Regions from separate parts of the Homo sapiens genome. Here region 2 is linked to region 1. Evidence: fine-mapped expression QTL. Tissue or cell type: blood mononuclear cells. Region 1 holds a variant in brackets; the other region holds the start of a gene. All regions are shown on one strand. Distances are from middle to middle.

The links. PIP is the estimated chance that this variant, and not a neighbour inherited with it, causes the effect.
Region 2: it holds the start of VOPP1, and the variant in region 1 is fine-mapped to the expression of VOPP1 in blood mononuclear cells (TOPMed, PIP above 0.99). The same link has a PIP of 0.9 or more in T cells and whole blood.

What each region holds. Positions count from the first base shown.
Region 1 is chr7:55,464,731-55,467,485 of GRCh38, reverse strand. It overlaps a transcript of VOPP1 not described here. Among named protein-coding and RNA genes, the nearest start is that of LANCL2, 100 kb to the right of the region's middle. The variant A/G (reference allele first, on the strand shown) is at 1,332.
Region 2 is chr7:55,571,326-55,573,825 of GRCh38, reverse strand. VOPP1 (VOPP1 WW domain binding protein) reads left to right here and starts at 1,324. Exons shown (of 5, transcript NM_030796.5): 1 at 1,324-1,555. The coding sequence starts at 1,502. It overlaps VOPP1-DT (VOPP1 divergent transcript), which reads right to left and starts at 1,060. Exons shown (of 17, transcript NR_187585.1): 1 at 509-1,060. RefSeq lists a silencer at 1,091-2,070 and an enhancer at 2,271-2,330.

The DNA.
Region 1 (2,755 bases):
CAGAAGGTGGCTGGCGAGGGAGGAGCTGTTTCTCAGAGAGGCTCCGCATTGAGGCCGGCAGGTACAGAGAGCAGAGGGGCTGTGGTAGGGACCGGGGAGATTGACCAATGGCTGTTGCGAGAATAGCTGTGCCAGGGACCAGAGGTCTCCTGCCTGACTCCCTCCTGCCCCTCACCCCATGTGCACAGAGCAGCTGGCTGCAGGAATTAAAGGCCCAGAGCTTGTTTTCTCACAAAGGGGGTGCTTTACGTCAGGGGTTCTCAACCCTCAGGCTGCAGACCAGTACTGCTCTGTGGCCTGTTAGGAGCTGGGTCATACAGCAGGTGGTGAGTGGCAAGCAAGCGTTACCACCTGAGCTCTGTCTCCTGTCTGATCAGCAGTGGCATTAGATTCCCATAGGAATGTGAGCCCTATTGTGAACTGTGCAGGAGAGAGGTCTAGGTTGTATGCTCCTTATGAGAATCTAATGCCTAATGATCTGAGGTGGAAGTTTCATTCTGAAATCATCCCCACCACCCCCTGGTCCGTGGAAAAATTGTCTTCTACAAAACCAGTCCCTGGTGCCAAAAAGGCTGGGACCACTGCTTAACATGGTAAGGCTCCTGGCATGGGTGAGGTGGGCTGTTGGCATCACTACCCAATTTTAAGTGTTTTGAACATTTTCTAATTTATCAATTAAAATGTTCATAGTTGGGCCAGGCACAGTGGCTCACACTTGTAATCTCAGCACTTTGGGAGGCTGAGGCAGGAGGATCACTTGAACCCAAGAGTTTGAGACCAGCCTGGGCAACATAGTGACATCCCATCTCTTTTTTAAAAAATTAAATTAAAAAAATAAGATGTTCATAGTCTGGGGCTCCTATGGCTTTCCCACAGCCCCTGGATCTCAATCCAAGGTCATTCACCACAATCCCAATCCCACCTTGGAAAATTTCTCTGGCACTAGAGGAAAGAAACTCAGCTTCTGGTTTCCCCCCTCAGTCCCCGAGCCTCTGCCCACATTGTGGCTCTGCATCCTTTTCTAGAGGATCTGCGTGCTATTTAAAATGCTTTGTCATAAAGCAGAACTCTTCCCTCCTTTCTGTCACTCTGTAGGAGGGGAGAGGAGTCCCTCCCTCCATTTTGACTCTGAAGTTTTCTGACTTGCACTATGCCAGCCTTTCTACCCAATTGCCCAAGCATTTCTCAGCTAAAGTGATCCTTAGTAGCTTGAATTCTTGTCACAATGTGTTCAGGCTGCTATAACAAAATACCATAGGCTGGGTGGTTTATAAACAAAGGAAATTTATTTCTTAGAGTTCTGGAGGCTGTTCGGAAGTCTAAGGTCAGGA[A/G]TGCAGTAGGTTCGGTGTCTGGTGAGTGTCTGCTTCGTGGTTCATAGATGGCTGTCTTCTTGCTGCACAGTCACTTGGCAGAAAGGGTGAGGGGTTCTCTCTCTGGGGCCACTAATCCCTTTCATGAGGGCTCCCTCCCCCTCATGACTTCATTTCCCAAAGGGCCCACCTTCAAACACCATCGGAGTGGGGATTCAGTTTCAACATATGACATTTGGGGGGACACAGACATTCAGTCCATAGCGGTTCTCAGTGCCTAACATTCTTTGGATGCCAAGAATGAGAGCACAGAGTAGATGTGAGAGAGTCCCTGTGGACCTAACTGTGCATTGCTGGTGTCATGGAAAGACTGTGGGCTCTGAAGATGGACAGTCTTGCTCAAGTCCTGAGTCTACTAATTACTGGCTTTGTGTCTTCCAGCAAATGATTTAATCTCCAGTCTCAGTTTCCTCAACTATAAAATGGAGATTATACTACCTATTGTTTATACGAAGCTTGCACATAGTGGATAATCAGCAAATATTAAAAATCCTCTGCTCTCTCTCATTCTACAATTCCTTGAGAAGTTGAAGCACAGTGGGAGAAGAAATAAGCTCCCACCCAAGCTTTTGCTCATCTGTGAGGAGTCGGTCTGTGGTATCGTCAGAGGAGTGTGAAAGGAGGAATTTTCTTGAGACATTCTCCATGTAGTCTCCATCTTTCAGACTACGATCATGTAAAGGAAGCCAAGGGTTTTCACATACACCATCACCACTCCACACATCACCTACCGTTCTTGTCTTGAAAGGTTGATGTGTGTTGCCCAGTGGATGTTGAGCCAATCAGAGATAGAAGGAGAAACCTTAGGCAACCACCTCTTTTTTCCCTCACTACTTATATGGGATGAGATCTGCGAGCATCCCAGAACAAACCTCGAAGTGTAAACAGTATTTTGTACATCCAGAGAGAAGGGTTTCAAGATAGCTGACTAGCGACACCTGGCACTTCTGCACAAAGAAGGACCAAAACTGAACAATCACATAACAAGTGGAGCTTCTAAGAGAACAATGGAATTCATCAGAGAAGTGACAGGGAACATCTGAGGCTTGGAAGGAGAGGGAAGCAAAGCAGCTGGTCCAGCTGCAATCAGCTCGGAGCCAGGAGAAACCCCCCAGTGCAGAGAGAAGGTAAGCAAGAGATCTTCAGCAGTCTACATTGCCACACTGACTCTTACAGTCCTAGCCACAGGAGAGCCCCTCAGCCCTTGTGGGCCCTGAGACTAGTCTAAGGAGCATCCTCAAGTCCTCCAATGCCATTAGTCCAGAGAAGAACTTCACTCTGGGTCCCCCACACACCCCAAGATCAAGACACCTGCAGCATGGCATTATTTTGAGAGGCCAGCCTCCACCAGACTACATCCTTCCCCGGGACTCAACAGCCTCTGT
Region 2 (2,500 bases), 110 kb before region 1:
GGGGTTGGTGAACTCCTGGGCTCAAGCAATTCTCACACCTCAGCTTCCCAGACTGCTGGGATGATAGGCATGAGCCACCCTGCCTGGCCCATTTGCATTTTTACAGGACGAGATCACTTCTATCCCCACTGGAAAAACATTTGTCTTGCTAACACACAATAAGCTTTCAGCTTAGTTTTCTACAAGTTAACTTTTCCATTAAAAAGAGTTGTAAAATGTCCTCATTGTAAATAGTAAAACTACTAGAGTTCAATGGCGTTTGGCAGGCTTGTCAGATAGGTGCCTTAGCATGACTGAAGGCCATAGGCATTGTTTCTGTCTTACTTGTAAGTTCTGGCTCTGACAGGTATAGTCAGGTGGTGCATGCTCTATATTAATCAAATTAGGCTTTGAAAGCTGGGAAAGAGTTGGGGACTTGCCTCGGGTGACATCTGTTCGTGTGACCCCCTCCTTCCACCTCCTGTACTGCGCAGCTCATGTCCTTTATGACCCTCTGTGATGCACCCACCTCCTGGTCTCCGCACTCAGCATTCTGCATCAGGTGGTTTAAGCGACTCTCCCTCCCTCTAGGCTACGGGAGCAGTTTTCTTGTCCTCCTCTCAGCCTCCAACTCAGGATCTGGTACATCTTACAAGTTTAATAGTGTTTGTTGAATAACCTCATGAAGAAGGTGGGATCTGAGCTGTGTTGTGAAAAAATAGTGTCTGTGAGGACATGGAGGTGGGGTCAGCGGAGGCGAGGACAGCGCGAGCTCCGCACAGTTTTCTGCTGCGGGAGGGTGGCCTGCAAGGCGGGGCCGGTTGCGGTCAAGTTCAAGTAGGGTCAGAGCAGGAGAACACTGGCATAAAAAATAGCCACATCCAAGGAAGCAGTGAGGTGTGGGGACCATCTATTTCGGTGGGCCTTCCCACCCCCAGGCCGGCCTTCCCATCACGCGTGGGTGTGGGGGCACTGCCCCCGCTGCGCGCAGGAACAGCGGGGAGAGCCAGGAGCGGAGCGGCTTCGGGATGCCAGACTGAGCAGTGGGTTCGTCTGCGGCCACCTCTCAGGGAACAAGCTTCCCCCCGCGGAGACTCTGCTTCTTTTAAAAGCCTTCCTGGGTTTAGTCTAGGGCGACAGGACGACCTCCCTTGGGAAGGGAGAGCCTGCCAGTCCCCCTCCCATTCGCCAGGCGGTGCAGCCCCTCCTCCCGCCCGGGGCGCGCGCACCTCAGCGTCGCGGGCCTAGCGCCCAGCAGCCGCGCCCCAGGCCGGGCCTCGGGTTCCGGGAGCCCGCAGGCGCGCGCCCGGCCGGGCGTGTCGGGAGCGCGCGGCGGCCGGGGGCGGAGCGCAGCCAGGGCTGCGCGGCGCGCCCCGGCTCCCGCCCGCTCCCAGCCGGGCCCCCCAGCGGTCGGCGGGACGGCTCCCGGCTGCAGTCTGCCCGCCCGCCCCGCGCGGGGGCCGAGTCGCGAAGCGCGCCTGCGACCCGGCGTCCGGGCGCGCTGGAGAGGACGCGAGGAGCCATGAGGCGCCAGCCTGCGAAGGTGGCGGCGCTGCTGCTCGGGCTGCTCTTGGAGGTAGGGGCCGGGGACCGGGTGCTGCCGGAGGCGCGGCGCCCACCATGCTGGCGGCTGGGGGCGCGCAGTTCCGAGGCGCCCCAGAGGACCTTGCCTGGGAGCGCAGACGGTGGAGCGACGGGGAGCCACAGCCCTGCGCGCCTCCCGGAGCTGGGAGGTGCGGGACCCTGGTGACGGGGAGGCTCCCGCCCCGGTCCGCGCCTTCCGTCGTTCCTTCGGTTTTCGCACCCCGCCCCCACCCTGCGGGTGAGCGCGTTTCCCGCGCCGACCGCCTCCGTTAGCTCGGGGTGACCTTTGTGCACCGTCCGCCCCCTCTCCCCGCCGCAGAGGGCCGAGGATCGGATGGACCCGGGGTTGGGCGGGGGTGGTCCTCGGGCGCGGCGCAGGCGCGGAGAGCCCGGGGCGCCGGGCAGTTTGGGGTTAGGAAAGGATGGGTGCCGAGCCGGGGTGAGGGGAGCGGGCGGAGGGGACTGTGGGGAAGTGTCGCGGGAGTGCCGGGAGTTGTGGAGGTGAGCAGCGGGAGGAGGCGTTCCCGCGTGTGAAAATGAAGTGCAGCCTTTAGGTGCGGGGAGGAAATTCTGCGGAGAGCCTGGCTGGGTGGGGGTGCGGAGCCGAAGCCGGCGGGGAACTTGTTGAGCGGCTTCCGGGTGCGAGCGCCCGTGACCGCATCCCTGGCGGGGACCGCGGCTGCTCCTGGCTGTGAAATTGCATCCTCGGATGGGGCCACATACTTCTCACTAAAGCAGGTTCCTTAAAATGCGAACTAGAGGAATTCTGGGGTGTCCAGTCTGAATCAGGGCTTGTTCAACTTTCTCCTTAGTTTCATTATTCTGAAGGAAATTTGCGTTAAATTAATGAAGTCAAAAGAAATAGGTAATGAATCCCATGCCTCTGTTTTAGGAAGTTGTGAAACTATCTTCCTTAATAGTTAGTGATTGGTGCTGG